Regions from separate parts of the Homo sapiens genome. Here region 2 is linked to region 1. Evidence: fine-mapped expression QTL. Tissue or cell type: tibial nerve. Region 1 holds a variant in brackets; the other region holds the start of a gene. All regions are shown on one strand. Distances are between the middles of the regions.

Region 1 (8,105 bases):
TTGTGCCCTGCTTGGAAAAAGATCTCAACTTTGGCATGACCTGGAAAAATGCTGCATGTGATGTGCCAGCCTCTCTGCAGGGCTGCTCGGTAGGGGCAACAGCTTGCCCTTTGGCTGGCAGCAGACTCCTTCCAATGCTCTGGGTCCAGACCACACTTGTTCTAACTGTCCTGGAGGAGAGGTGTTAGGTAGAAAGCTTTCTTTCCCTACTGTCAGGGACCCGGCGTGCTCCAGGAGGCTGCCGCCCACCATTTTTGCTTATTGCCAGAGCTGCCTCACTGTTGCTGTGGGGGTGCTGAGCATCTGATTCTCATCTGCCAGGGCGCCAGGGCTGATTTGGGGAGGAAAGGACCAAGAGGCACAGGTCGCTGTGCGCTGGCCCTGGGGATCTCCGCGGTAATGGCGCTGGCTACTTCTGTTTGTTCTTACCTGAAACTATCAACACAAATAGAACTTATGCCACAAAATATTTAACAACATGCCAGGCACATGCACAGAAGGACTGGACTGGCCATTTGCTGAGATGCTGGGGCAGGTACCCAAGCTCTCTGCTGTGACAAGGTCACCCTTTAAATGTGGGCTCATGGAGAGATCTAGGGGGCTGGGGAGAGGCCGGGTGGCCAGGGTACAGTACCAACCCGCGTGAACGCACCCCAATGTTTTCACTGTCTCCATGGCCTTACTGGGTGGGACATGGGAAATTTCAGCCCTGACTCTTACCAGGGCTGAAAAAAGAGGTTTGCTGAGCAACTGGAATGATCCAGGAGCTTGACAAAGAGAAGATGTAAAGTAAATTGAGCATGCTCTTACCTATGTACACAAGTAGGGTGGAGGGATACCCATGCCTTCCCTCCCTGACATGGCAGGGCTGGTGCTGAGTGCGGACCATATGCCCAGGGCCTCAGGTCAGGGACAGCACACAGCCCAGTTGCACTCAGCTGAAGTCAGAGGGAGGGTGAGCCAACCGGGAGAGGTTTCCTGGGGTACACCATTGGAAGGGGCCTTGAGTATCGGTAGGGCCAGCAGCGAGAAAAGCAAGGAAGAACATCTCAGAGGGGCGGATCTCATGGAGTGGAGATAGAACAGAGGGTACTGACCCGATGGCGTGTAGACTTGTCTACTCGGAGTGTGAGGTGCCTGAGGTCAGGTGCACCAGAAGTAGACCCTGAGACATATATTCACATGCAAGAGCTTTATCAAGGAATTAATCCTGGGGAGACCTACCTGTGAGAGAGTGGGGAGCAGGCCGGGGAAGGAGGAAGCCTCTCAAGGCTGCAGCCTTGGGTGGAAGTCCTGTGAAGGTGACATCAGCCCCACCCTGCAGGAGTCGTGGACCACAAAGTGTGCAGAGTCCCAGTTTCTTATACCAGCACTGGACTGGCAGTCAGTGTTAAAAGCCTCTGGGTGGGGAGTCTAAAAGAGGCAGGTGGGAGGAAGCAGAACCCCTGGCAACCCAGTGACCTGCTGATGAGAAAAGCAAGGGAGAGAGAAAGGGAGAGTGAGTAGAAGCAACCTGTATGCAGCTTTCCTGCCAGGGTGGTGGGAAGCCAGGGGCGCCATTCTCTGACAGAGACCACAGGAATGAGCAGAGACTGGGGAGAAAAAATGATGATGCCGGTGTGGCATATGGGGATGTTGAAGTCTCTGGGGACACTGGGGTGAAGGCCGACACAGTTTGCTGGATGCAGGTCTGTGACTTAGGAGAGGCCTCAGGCCCCAAGGCAGCACAATCGAGCCACAGCAATGAAGAGGCCCCTTGGATAGGATTTCTGTGGATTCTCCAACCTCCCGGACACGCAGGGGCTCAGTGATTGGAGACAGACAGCATCTCCAGGGAAGGGATGAAGCAGGTGTCACTCTCACACATTTGGAGGGACCGATCATGAGGAAGTCATTAAATGATACACTATTAACAGCTGGTATTTACCAAGCCCTTCCAATGTGCCCTGTGCCCTGCACCGGTGCCAAGAAAGTCCTGTGTGCATGATCCAATTGTACCCCTCAGGGGTGGGCATACTACTATTACTCAAACTCTACAGGTGAAGGAAAGTGAGGTATTGTCATCAAGGCCATATAGCAAATAAATGGATGAAACTTACTCTTTAATTTCCCAGTTTTATCAATGATCCCAGATATCATTCCTTTAGGGAAGCATCCCCACAGTGGCAATACCACACAAGTGTTTCTCTAGCTGTTTAGCTGCACCTCCTGCTCTTTAAACCTAGTAAACATTTGCCTGCCTGCAAATGGTTCCTATCTCCAGTTTGTCCCAAGAGCTGGGCTATTCAGTCTCCCTACAGCAAATCTCCCTACACAATTATTTAAAAACCGTTCATTTGGGGACATTTACTCCTCCCTTTTCACCACATGAGGCAATCTGGTTCATGGTATCTTGGAAACACTAGAAACGAGCATTTTTACCCATCGAAATGGCTCCCAAGGGCAGCTTGCGTCAGCACAAATGTATACTGAGAGGCCTCCAACGTGGGTCTTTGCCGTAAATCATTTTCTGAGCTGTGTGTGAGAAGAGCTTCCTCATCCCTCCAAAGGACAGTGGCCTGACACTACCATTAGCTTTTTATAGACAAAACTATATAGAAGGAAGATGTAGAAGAAAAATGGAGTAATTTCTGTATAGCACAACGGATGTGATCAAATAAGGCTGCGGTGGCCTGTTAGAGAAATGTACGTGCTGTGAAGGTTGCATGGATGCTGAATGCACTTCGTCCCGACCAAACAAGGCACAACGAATCTCAACATTCTACCAAAGGACATGGCGACGTGGCGTGATGGTAGGGTGTGGTAGAGTGACCACATGTCTGGTTTGCCCAGAGCTGCCCAGGGTATGCCTGCCAGCCCTCCCTGGACAATACAATGTAGGATCGCCTCTCTTTTTGTTCTGATGCGGTTTCCCATGCCAAACAATTTCAGAGGACGGACACTAACTTCCTGTCCAAAGTCTCCAAGTCACTCTCTTCCCCAGACTTGGGGAATAATAAGCCAGATAAGTCTCCCAAGGTATGAACGTCTGAGCCCTCGCTTTGGGCTGATTATGATGCTGTGGCCAGACGTTTTAAATATTCACACTGTGAATATTTAACCCCAAAATCTGCACCCAAAAATCTGTGAAAGAACAAAGCTGACTCCCCAAAATAAACACAAGTCGAATCTGTGGATGGGACCTGATGGTTAAGCGAGCTTAGTTAGAGGCTTAGTCATCTGATTTCAGGGCCCACAGGTGTGTCTGGGCCGACGAAGACCTGAGAGGTCAGACCGTCTGCCAGTGTGGAAGGAGCTGGGGCAACGAAGGGGGCTGCTGTGATCGCAAGGC[G/A]AATGGGGGGACCATGCGTTTCCTTTGCACCCTTGCACAGTAGTTTTTCGGGAGGGGGCTGCAGATTTTGGGTTGGAGAGAAGGAGCAGGGATTCCTGATTCCAACCTCTCTAGGCTGCCCAGGAGTTCACCCTCAGGCTTCCTGGGAGCAGGTTTGCACACCACTACCAAGGTGTGTTGCCGTCCTCAGTTCACGGTGCCACAGCCAGAGTCTGCACAAGTGGCATCCTGTTTCCTAATGCATCTTTAGCTCTCACGGATGCCTCGCCTTTGGTGGTCCCCCAAACAGATCCACGGCAGCATGTGCTGTGATGACTGCCCACCCCCACCCTCCTCCCAGGAAATTTCTAAAGAACTCCATCTGGCGTCCAGCAGCTTCGTGTTTGTTCTTTTTATAAATATGTTCTGTGATGAAATTCAGGGTTAAGCTTTCTGATCACATGATCTGTCCTGACTTCACAGTCATCCATTCTATCTGGATCAATGACATCTAAGTATTTCCATGGTCTCCAGGAGCTAAATCACAGCACCTGGCTTCTTGCTCTGCACGTGGCTGGGCCTGGCTCCCAGGACTCTCTGTCCTCCATGGACTGGTTGTGAAAGCCACACAAGAACCGGCTCAGGAGACCACGAGTGGGCAGGGGGCCCCTCCCTGGGGCTGGGTGCAGGCCAGCACCCTGGCAAGGTAGAAACAAATGGGCATCTCGACAGCCAAGCCAGGGCTGCTGAGTGTTTTATCCATCTTTCTGAGAGGCAGTGTTTTCATCATTGAGTCACCACTGGGTATGTTCAGGTGACCATCTCTATTTAGTCTCACTTCTGACCACATATGACAATCCTGGAAGCTTTCCAGAATCCCCGTGCCTGGACTCTACCCAGTACCAAATCAGAATCTCAGGGCATCAGTATGTTTTTAAACCTCCCCAGGAGATACCAAGGAGCGGCTGGGCTTGAGCATCTGCTCTCCGCCGGGACTTCTCACACTGTAATGTGCACACCAATCACCAGGGATCTTCTTCAAACGCACATCTTGACTCAGTAGGTCTGGGGAGGGGCGTGATTTCCGCGTTTCTGACTCGCTCTCAGGAGAGGCTGGTGCTGCTGATCCAGGTGCCACCCTTGGAGGGCAAGGGCACAAGTGTATCACAGTGTGGCAAACCATGGAAGGTTGGCCAGTTTTTAAAATTTCAATAGCCTTTGGGGTGCAACTGGTTTTCGGTTAGGTGGATGAATTGTCGGGCCAGTCTTTGTAAAAAGAGTTTTTGTTTTTGTTTGTTTTGTTTTTTTGTTTTGAACCTCCCGGGTTCAAGCGATTCTCCTGCCTCAGCCTCCGGAATAGCTGGGATTACAGGCATGTGCCACCATGCCTGGATAATTTTAAAGATATTTTTAGTAGAGATGGGGTTTCACCATGTTGGTCAGGCTGGTCTCGAACTCCTGACCTCAGGTGATCCGCCTGCCTCTGCCTCACAAAGTGCTGGGATTACAGGCATAAGCCACTGTGCCCGGCTGTAAAAAGAGTTTATTGGCTGGACACAGTGGCTCATGCCTGTAATCCCAGCACTTTGGGAGGCCAAGGCAGGCAGATCACAAGGTTCAGGAGATCAAGGCCATCCTGGCAAACACGGTGAAACTCCATTTCTACTAAAAATACAAAAATTTGGCCGGGCATGGTGGCACATGCCTGTAATCCCAGCTACTCGGGGGTCTGAGGCAGGAGAATTGCTTGAACCTGGAAGGCGGAGGTTGTAGTGAGCCGAGATCACACCACTGCACTCCAGCCTGGGTGACAGAGCAAGACTCTGCCTCAAAAAAAAAAAAAAAAAAAAGAGAGTTTTATTGAGACACAGCCATACCACACTCACACTATGAGGCAGGGATGCAACAGAGACTGTATGGCCTGAAAGCCTAAAATATTCACTCTCTGGCACTTTACAGAAAAAGTTTGCTGATTTAGAACTTGTTAGTATAGGTGCATCTGTCACAAGCTCAGCGGCCGGCATGGGCAGCCCAGGTAGGTAGGCCTCCCTATCACAGGTGGATGTGAGTCAGAGGGTCACGTTCCGTCATACAGAGCGGTGCCCAGTGTTTTCCCGTGACAGTGGCACTGTTCGTTCACCACAGTCACCCTGTAACCGGCAGCGGTGCTGTTGACTTCGTCATGCCAAGGGATATCCAGTTCCGAGCACCTTCTGTTGCGTGTCTAAGACACTGTGGGAGCCTTTGGGAGGCAGGATGGTTTAAAATGGGGCACAGTTCCATATCACTTAGACAGAAGGATCAGGGTGGATTGTGACCTCCCAGTGATTGTCAGCCCTTCTGTCCTCCTTTCAAAGCTTTCAGACTTGGGGATACAGTTTGGCTCTGTGTCCTCACCCAAATCTCACCTCAAATTATAATCCCCATAATCCTCAAGGGTCAAGGGCGGGGCCAGGTGGAGGTGATTGAATCATGGGGGCGGTTTCCCCCATGTTGTTCTCGTGATGGTGAGTGAGCTCTCACGAGATCTGACGGGCTCGGAAGCGTCTGGCCTTTCCCCGCTTGCACTCACTCTGTCCTGCCGCCCGGTGAAGAAGGTACGTGCTTCTCCTTTGCCTTCTGCCATGACTGTCGGTTTCCTGAGGTCTCTCCAGCAATGCAGAACTGTGAGTCAACTAAACCTCTTTTCTTTATAAATTATCTGGTCTCGGTATTTCGTCACGGCAGTGTGAGAATGGACTAATACACTTGGGTTACAATTTTGGCAGACAAAATTGTGTTTTCTGTGTTTAGAATTACCAAAAAAAAGTAGGGAGATGGGGATGGTTTACATATAATCTACTCCTCTTAAAAGTTATTGGAGTGCAGTGGTGCAACCTCGGCTCACTGCAACATTCGTCTCCTGGGTTCAAGCAATCCTCCTGCTTCAGCCTCCCAAGTTGCTGGGATTACAGGCGCTCGCCACCACGCCCTACTAATTTTTGCATTTTTAGTAGAGAGAGGGTTTCATCGTGTTGGCCAGACTGGTCTGGAACTCATGACCTCAGGTGATCCACCCGCCTCGGCCTCCCAAAGTGCTGAGATTACAGGCGTGAGCCACTGTGCCCGGCCCTGGCCGACTGTCTTAAATTGTGCAATCTAGTGTCCATAAAACTCTAATTATTTTGCTGTCATTTAAATTTTTTTACTATTTAAAAATTTCACGTGTAATTACAGATGGTACGTTTGTTGAGAAAACATATGTACCACAGTATTTGTAGTCAGAATTCAGAAATAAGCACTGTAATGTTTTAGTGTGTATCACATTTCACGTCATTTCTATGCAGAAATAGACCACATGCCACAGAGTGAACTTTGTCTCTAGCCTCAGCTTTCTCATCTCTAAAGTGGGGAGATCCTCTCCTGCTTCACGGAGTTGTTGTTAGGATGGAATGAGCTCGTATCAGTAAAGTGCTGACAGCACTGTATACTAAGTTTTGGAAATGGAATTTAACTGTTTTATAACCTGCTTACCAGGGTTTGGGGCCAGACATAAAATTCATGCACCCCACTTTTGTCACATTCCACTGGAGAGAGCTGAACCTCAAACTCACACCAGACTCCAAGAGACACAGAAAACATAGTGTCCTGAGCAGGCTGACCCAGCGTAAGGCCAGGACTGCAGAGAAAGGGAAGCAGGTTTTGGTGGAGAGCTGATCTCTGCCCCAGGGTATTTTACCATTTTTCTATGTAAGTGTTAATATTTTGCTTTTCGATATATGTGTGTTCTTTATAAATGAGGGACAGCAACCTTATGACTCATGTATATTGCAAAATTTTTCTTTGGTGTCACTTTTCACTTGCAAAAATTTTCTTTGGTGTCATTTTTCACTTTTAATTTTGTTCATGGAATTTCCTATTTTTATTTGTTGTTGTTGTTTTAGACAGAGTCTCTCTCTGTCACTCAGGCTGGAGTGCAGTGGTGTGATCTCGGCTCACTGCAACCTCGCCTCCCAGGTTCAAGTGATTCTCCTGCCTCAGCCTTCTCAGTAGTTGGGATGAGAGGCGTATGCCACCACACCCAGCTAATTTTTGTATTTTTAGTAGAGATGGGGTTTTACCATGTTGGCCAGGCTGGTCTTGAACTCCTGATCTCAAGTGATCCACCTGCCTTAGCCTCCCAAAGTGCTGAGATTACAGGCGTGAGCCACCGTACCCAACTGGAATTTCCTATTTTTTGAAAAAACTTTTTGTAATATATTCACACATGTGACAAAAATGCATTAGAAAATAAAATTGCTCAGAATTCCACAACTACAAATGGCAATTCTGTTGCCTTGACGTAGTTGTGTGTGTTCCTTACACACTTGGGTTTATACTGTATATTCTGTAGATAATTTTATATCCTGCTTTTTAATTTAATATTATATTGTGAGAATTTTCCCATGAAGCTGGAATTTATTTAAAAACATACTTTTATGACTGCTTGTCAAAGCAGATGTCGTCACTCCTGTCATCCTGGGCTTAAAGGTGGACTCTGCTTGGTTTCCTTAGGTTGAATTTCTAAAAGAGAAATTACTTGTATCAAGGACACACAGAGAATGAGAAACGTTTGAAGCGGTGGTTATCCTAAATACTCTAATTTGATTATTAAGCATCGTATGCACAAATCAAAATATCACATGTACCTCATCAATATGTACAACTATTATGTATCAGTTAAAAAATGAATACACCGAGTTCTACTCGTCATGGACATTCAGCAAGGTTAGTGAGTCAAGCCGTTGAGGAAGCCGCTTTAAGACTGTGTCTGTAG
Region 2 (8,105 bases), 660 kb before region 1:
CAGGAAATGCTGATCTCTACCCCTGGGTGAGACCAGAACCTCAGGGCTGATACTGTTGAGTGGCTTCCTCGGTTTACTCTGTGTACTGTGAAAGTATTTTCATATTTTTTCTGTGTGCCAGAGTGAAAAAGGACAGCTTCTGAGTGTGGTAATTGTGCCTCTAGCACCCAGCCTTTCAAAGCCCACCTGAAACCTGGGGGTGGATGAAAGAACTAGAATAGAAGACTGAAGCTGGGTAGGCCGCTCAGTGTCCACTGGCATTTTGCTAAACCGACAAGGAAGGCTGTGTGCTTAGCTCTCCCCAGAGGGAGGGCGAGAAGGGTGTGGTGATGGTCAATCTGGCTGTCGGAACAGATTCTGGTGTCTTGGGCTGATAACAGTGTTGTTGATTCTGATTGTGAATCCCCTCAACTCTAGCAGACACATACACACCCCTGAAATGGGGCTGCAGAGCAGGCTGTCTCAGCCTTGCCACTGTCGGCATCTCGGCCTGGGTAATTCTGTTGTGGGGACTGTCCTGTTCCTTGTAGGATGTTTAGTAGCATCCCTGCCCCCACCTACTAGATGCCAGGGGCACTGTTCTCCCCAGCCCCCCGCCCCAGTTGTGACAATAGTCTCTAAACATTGTCAAATGGTCCAAGGAAAGGGGAAAATTGCCCCGGTTGAGAAGAGCACTGCTGTAAAGTAATGAGCCTCGGCTCTCCTGTCTGCACCTGTCCGGTTACTACTTGGCCACCACGCAGCCTTGGCTCCTACAGCCCAAAAGGGAGAATGGAGGGAGGCTCCAGGCTTTGCTGGAGGGGCCTGGGTGAGTTCTGTTTGCTCCTTGTACCACCATCCAAATGGTGTTATCAAATCTCTTAGATTCCAAAGAGGTTGAATAATTAATGTTCAAAGGCAAGAGGGCAAGGCATTTTTTAACACTTTTTAAAATAAAAATTTATACCACAACTTTAGGCTATTGATGTGATGTGTCACTGGGACAGATGCGGATTCTCCATGGTGCCTCTGCCACTGAGGCCGCATTTCCTGAGCATAATCCCCTTTTACCCTCCCGCTGCCAAGCAGGAGACGGGATGCTGATGGTAAGAACACCTCCCTGCCAGTGCATTTTGGCGCTCAGGATGAGAGGCCTGCAGCACTGCTGTCCCCGCGCCTGGCTCTGGGGCCTTCCCTTCACCCCCACTCTCTCAGCACCATGGTGAGAAGAACCAAGTTTGCCTGTGAGGAGTTAGGTACAAGGCCCAAGCTCCACAAGAACACTGCTGTTAATGGGCAGAGCCAATGACGACACAGACCAGCAAAGCAGAACCGAGACTGTCCGCACTTGGTTCGGAAACAAATACTCACACCCTAGGTTATTGCTGGTAACGGAGACCTCCTTCCAGCTCCCACAGTCCTGCTTGGTAGATTTTCTACTTGTTGCTACAATCATCATCTTTGCTTTGGGTCTGTCACGTGAGGTTAGGGTTTCAGGAATAAAATGTTTAATAAATCACAAAATATTTTAGGCAGTATTTTGATGTACATTTTAATGTGTGGTATTTATGAAAGGGAAAGGGTTTTCTAATTATAATAAAGGCATAAATAGTGTAAATATTCAAGATTTTAGAAGCAGCTGATTTCAGAGAAATCACTGAAAGGTTAATGCTACTACAGTGATTTTTACAATATGCAATAATCCAAGTATACGACCAGGTATAGTGGCTCATGCCTGTAATCCCAGCACTTTGGGAGGCCAAGCTGGGAGGATCGCTTGAGGCCATGAGTTCGAGACCAGTGTGGACAACACAGCAAGACCCTATCTCCACAAAAACATTAAAAAATATTAGCCAGGTGTGGTGGTGTATGCCTGTAGTCCTAGCTTCTTGGCAGGCTAAGGTGGGAGGATCACTTGAGCCCAGGAGTTTGAGGCTGTGGGGAGCTGTGATCACACCGTGCCTCAATAATAATAGCAATCATCATCATCATCATCAAGTATAGAGTCCTGAAATTGAGAGCTCAAAACTCCCCCCTGCCCCTTCTCAGCTGTGTTACCCAGGCCTTGCTTCCTAACCTTTCGCCGTCATTATGCAAGTATAGAGTCCTGAAATTGAGCAGCTCAAAATTACTTTTCAGCTGTGTTACCTAGGGCTTGCTTCCTAACCTTTCTTAGCCTCAGTTGCCTCATCTATAAATGGAGAGTGCAATAGCACAGAAGGCTAATGTGAAGATTAAAGAAATATGATATATCATAAGGTGCCTGGCACAAAAATGGCAGTTTTTTTAAACTGTACGATCTTGCTATATATAAAGAACTGGTTGTCAGGTATGTTACTTAAAAATAGTGACACCACGCTGGACGCGGTGGCACACACCTGTAATCCTAGCACTTTAGGAGGCTGAGGCGGGTGGATCACCTGAGGTCAGGAGTTTGAGACCAGCCTGGCCAACATGGCAAAACCTCGTCTCTACTAAAATTACAAAAATTAGCCGGGCATGGTGGCGGGTGCTTGTAATCTCAGCTACTCAGGAGGCTGAGGCAGGAGAATTGCTTGAACCTGCGAGGCAGAGGTTACAGTGAGCTGAGATTGCGCCATTGCACTCCAGCCTGGGCAACAAGACCAAAACTCCGTCTCAAAAAAAAAAAATTGTGACACCAATAACCTAAAACTCAGTGCTACCGTTTTTTATTAGCACAAGGGTAACTGGTGTTGAAACTGTACAGACAGCTATTTTTATCATTTCTGAGATGAAACCCCAATCAACATATCAGGAAAAAAGGAAATACTGACCTCACCAAAGATTTCTGAAAGTCAAACGATATTAAACTCAAACATTATATATGTCTCTTTCCTTTTATGCAGGAATTAATGTGATAGATTTATGTTGAGAGTAGAATATGAAAACTTTTGCATAGTCTGTATTTAGGCCAAAACTGCCTTTACTACTCAAGAAAGTCCAATGGGCCAGTGAGGACACTGCAGGTGACAGAAATTTCTATGAGTGTAACACCTACAAGCACTGTGCTCACAGGACTGACTGTTACACCAAAAAGGTCTCTTGGAGGAGAAGAAATGCAATATGCAAAGAAGCTGTTGTCTCCAATTATTCAAGCCAAGGCTACAACAGTAGCCACAAATCTGCCAGTTATTTCCAATTAAGGCAGAACGATTGACTTAAAAAGCAATAGTTGTTTTTTTTCTCCACTGAGCTTTCAATTAGATAATGTCTATAACCTTTATAAAGCTGCAATTATACAGCCAAAAGAAAAAAAATTAATTGTGGTAAAACATACATAAAACTTACCACTTAAACCACTTTTAGGTGTGTAGTTCAGTGGCAGTAAGTACACTCACAATGTAATGCAGGCATCACCAAAATCCATCCCCAGGACTTTTTCATCTCTCCAAACTGAAACTCTGTCCCCATGAAACACCAACTTTCCATTCCCCCTTCCACCAGCCCTCAACAACCCCCATTCTATTTTCTGTCCCTATAAGTTTGACTCCTCTAGGTACCTTATTATATAAGTGGAATCACACAGTATTTGTCTTTTTTTGACTGGCTTACCTCCCTCAGCATAGTGTCCTCCAGGTTCATCCATGTAGTAGCAAGTGTCAGAATTTCGTTCTTTGTTCAGGCTAAAAAATGTTCCCTTGCATGCACAGACAACATTTTGCTTATCCATGTATCTGTTTTTGGACACTTAAATTGCCTCCACCCTTTTGGCTATTGTGAATAGTGCCGCTGTCAACGTGAGTGTAAAAACATTTCTTCTTGTACACCCTGTTTTAAATTCTTTTGGGTTATATACCCAGAAAAGAAAATGCTGGATCATATAACTGATTTGTTGAGGAACCGCAGTATTGTTCATCACATGGCTGCACCATTTTACATTCCCAACAGCAATATACAAGGGCTTCAATTTCTCTACATCTTCACCAACACTAATTTCTGGGGGTTTTGCTAGTAGCCATCCTAATGGGCGTGAAGTGGTATAAACAAAATTTAGATCCCATCATCTCCGAAAAGCAAATACACTTCCTAGTACTAGTCAGTACTAAATAGGTGCACAGCGTTTAGAACTTTACTTGATCCAACATAGCAGCCTGCCTAGAGCCGGAGCCCCGCCCACTCCGGAGTCCCGCCTGGACGCCGACGCAGCGAGGGCGCTATGGCTGGCGGCCTCGCCTCCTGGAAAGGCCATGGTCGCTGAGGCGACGAGCGAGGGCGGGGCAGCGCCGACGGGGACACTCATCCCGGGAGCCAGAGCCAGCACCGAGAGGGGACGGTCTACGCGGGTGCCGGCGGTTCCAGGACTGCGAAACCACGAGCCGAGTTTCGGTCGCCCATGGGAAAGCACCCGGCAGGGCGTGGCTTCGGGGCGGGGCGGGCAGAGGGCGGAGCAGGATGGAGAGGCGAGGTGGGCGGAGCAGAGGGCGTGGCTTCGGGGCAGAGTGGGCCGGGTACCGCGCTTGGTCTTAGCGCATGCGCACTCCCGGCAGCTACGCGACCTGTGACCATGGTGGCTGTGCTGGGCGGCCGGGGCGTGTTGCGCCTGCGGCTGCTTCTCTCAGCGCTGAAGCCCGGGATCCACGTCCCACGGGCCGGACCCGCGGCCGCGTTCGGGTAATGGCGGCCACCTCGCCCCGGGGATCCCCAGCATCGGCGCGCTCGAGGGGCGGCGGGAGGGGCGCGTGCCGACAGCAGGAGTTCCCGGCGCGCGGGCACGGGGCGTGGGCGCGGCCTGGCTGCCCTGTCGCCCTTTGTGCCGCGAGACCCCGATCCTGGGGGCCAGCCGCGCTTGGTGCTCGAGCCCCTCGATCGTGCATGCGCCTCGGTCAGCCTCAGTTCAAGGAGTCTGGAGCCGTGGAGGCTTGGGCTATAGAGTGCAGCCCCTTCAGTGTGCAGACCAGAGAGACCCAGGGAGATACATTTGCCTGTAGTATGGACTCACCCGTGACGGAGCACGGACTAGAATCCCAACGCCCTCATTAGTCCATTGCTCTGTCCAGAGTCCACACTAAGGGCATAAGGACAATAATCTCTTCTTTCTCTTATGTCAGAAATCAGCCTGAGCCTGAGTACCGCTAAGGCTTTAATCACGGGTCCCGAGAGCCCTAAGTCTTCTCTTTGCTTGCTGATCTCGTACCTTAATGTGCAAAAGAATCACGTTGGGAACTGAAAATTCAGAATCCTGGGCCTCACTCCCAGAGGATCTGATCTACATGTGTGGAGATGCCCAGGAATCTGCTTTATTCTCTTTTGTCCTCCCACCTGTCCCCCCATTTCAGGTAAAACAATAACAAAAAAACTGGATTAATTTCTGACCTTCTGTCTTGAAAATGGATACTCTTGGTCCCAAGAGATACTGGGCAGAAATGTGGATAGAGCGGCATGAAGCTTGTTTTACTTTATTCTCTACATACATCCCTACACACATGCAAACACACGTATACAACGAACGTACACAGTGCATGTGCGCAGTTGACTGTTGATGGGCTACTTTCATAAAGTCAGTACTAGATAGGTACACAGCGTTTAGAACTGTACTTGATCCAACATAGAAACTTTTAGTTTGAAAACTTGATTTAGAAGGAGAAAAGAGGGCAAATCTGACCAGCTTTTAAAATTTCATATTGCAATTGACTAGCTCCTTTAATTTTAGAATTATTATAAGATGGTCAGGGCTATTTTGATAGATGGAAAAACATGTTAATGGCTACAGCTGTATAAATTAACAGTGAAAATGATTATTTTTTCCAGTTTCCTGTCTGCAGAAAGGCATCGAAATAAGTTACTGTGATTGTACCAATATAGTTCTTTTTTTTTTTGAGACTGACTCTCGCTCTTTTGCCCATGCTGGAGTGCAGTGTTGTGATCTCGCTCACTGCAACCTCTGCCTCCCAGGTTTAAGCGATTCTCGTGGCCTCAGCCTCCCGAGTAGCTGGGATTACAGGTACCTGCCACCATGCCCGGCTAATTTTTGTGTTTTTAGTAGAGATGGGGTTTCACCATGTTGGCCAAGCTGATCTCGAACTCTTGACCTCAAATGATCCACCTGCCTCAGCCTCCCAAAGTGCTGGGATTACAGGCGTGAGCCACCGCTCTCGGCCTACCAGTATAGTTCTGATAGGTTATTTAATGGTTGAGGAAGGCCCCATCCATCTAGTTGCATTGCAGATCATTCTTCCTAAAATATCTCTGAAGAAACAGGTTTTTCTGGATTTTGTACGGCCGTTTTATAAATGCAGCTGCAAGTTGATATGACATATAATCTGGGAAAACAAGCAGTGGTATTAGTTAATCCTGAAATGCAGCTGTAGCTCAGTGTCAGTAGGTAAAAGGATTCGTGTAAAAACTTTGCTTCAGAATAGCCAGTGCCCAACCTACAACTGACTTTTGTTCCAAAAACTTGTTTGTAAGTCTGCTGTTTGGAACTTTGACCCTTATTTCAAAATCCGTAAGGTGATTTATTCCTGGGTCAGGTCAAGAAAAGCCTTTTCTACCTGAAATTGGATATTATGTGCAGTTATAAATATTAATAATTCACATAACCTAACAATCTTCCTAAAAAATATTTTCCAAGTTCAACCTTGGGATGCCCTGCCAGAGAATCAGAGACTGTCCTTCTGCTGACGCTTGCCACCACGCTGTATCTGGCAGTCAGAGTGTGGCCCCGGTGCCTGAGCCCTCTTAGGACTCTGTTCAGCCATGAGGTTAGAGAGGAATCATGGCCTCTGGAGTTCTAATGGCCCCGTGGCCACTTCCTAGCTCTGTGAGTGTGGGCAGATTGTTCAACCTCTCTGAGCCTCCTGCCTTGCAGCGTTTTTGTGAGGATTTGAAACAATAAATGTAAAAGCCTGGGGATATAATAAACATGAAGTAATTAGTAGGCACAATGGGAATATTTATATAATAGTACAATATATAAGAGATGTAAAAATAATTCATCAAGATTCATGCAAATTTCAAGCCCTGAAGGTAGCAAATACTTTATTGTAGATAATGGCTACTTCACAAAACATACACAAAAGAAATAGCTGAACATACAATATGATAATAGCAGTTTCTTTTTTTTTTTTTTTTTTTTTTTTTTTGAGACGGAGTCTCTCTCTGTCACCAGGCTGGAGTGCAGTGGCACGATCTCGGCTCACTGTAATCTTCACCTCCCAGGTTCCAGCGATTCCCCTGCCTCAGCCTTCTGAGTAGCTGGGATTACAGGTGTGCACCACCATGCCGGGCTAATTTTTTTGTGTGTATTTTAGTAGAGATGGCGTTCCACCATGTTGGGCAGGATGGTCTTGATCTCCTGACCTCGTGATCCTGACCTCGTGATCCACCCACCTGGGCCGCCCAAAGTATCGGGATTACAGGTGTGAGCCACCACACCTGGCCGATCCTAAGCTATCTTAACTGTAGAAATGAATTTCTCAGAGGAATAGGGCAGTAATCATAATAAGTAAATGGCAGAGTCAGTATTGCCATTGCTTGGTGGCTTCATTGATGCCCCTTTAATAATATTTCTGTAGATAAGGAGCTTATAGTTTAGTCAGACCTTATTACTACCCAATTCTGTCTTTTATTTTTCCAGAAATGGTATGTTAAGAGTAGATGTACCTGTATTCAACACATCTGTTTCCACGTTTGTTTCTTTTTTACTTGAGACTGGCAAATAAGATTAAACCAAAAGATAAAACAGGACCTCATTTTTTCAAAAGGGCTGTGTTTCAGTTATCCTTTGACTAAGGGCAGAGGTAGGAGTAGAGAGTATGTAGAAGAAAAAGGAGATGGGCCGGGCCTGTAATCCCAGCGCTTAGGGAGGCTGAGGCAGGCAGATCACGAGGTCAGGAGATTGAGACCATCCTGGCTAACAGGGTGAAACCCCGTCTCTACTAAAAATACAAAAAAATTAGCCGGGCGTGGTGGCGGGTGCCTGTAGTCCCAGCTACTTGGGAGGCTGAGGCAGGAGAATGGTGTGAACCCGGGAGGTGGAACTTGCAGTGAGCCGAGATGGCGCCACTGCACTCCAGCCTGGGCGACAGAGTGAGACTCCATCTCAAAAAATAAATAAATAAAAATAAAAATAAAAGGAGATGGTGGTTGATTTCATTGTATTGGCA

The links. PIP is the estimated chance that this variant, and not a neighbour inherited with it, causes the effect.
Region 2: BPHL starts here. The variant in region 1 is fine-mapped to the expression of BPHL in tibial nerve (GTEx, PIP 0.98).

Annotation. Positions count from the first base shown.
Region 1 is chr6:3,779,232-3,787,336 of GRCh38, forward strand. LOC124901244 (a long non-coding RNA gene) reads right to left here. Exons shown (of 2, transcript XR_007059412.1): 2 at 7,728-8,105. Among named protein-coding and RNA genes, the nearest start is that of PXDC1, 32 kb to the left of the region's middle. The variant G/A (reference allele first, on the strand shown) is at 3,332.
Region 2 is chr6:3,114,237-3,122,341 of GRCh38, forward strand. BPHL (biphenyl hydrolase like) reads left to right here and starts at 4,475. Exons shown (of 7, transcript NM_004332.4): 1 at 4,475-4,611. The coding sequence starts at 4,505. RIPK1 (receptor interacting serine/threonine kinase 1) reads left to right here. Exons shown (of 11, transcript NM_001354930.2): 11 at 1-951. It overlaps LOC107986556 (a long non-coding RNA gene), which reads right to left and starts at 4,411. Exons shown (of 4, transcript XR_001743928.3): 1 at 3,553-4,411. RefSeq lists an enhancer at 3,709-4,344 and a silencer at 4,383-4,772.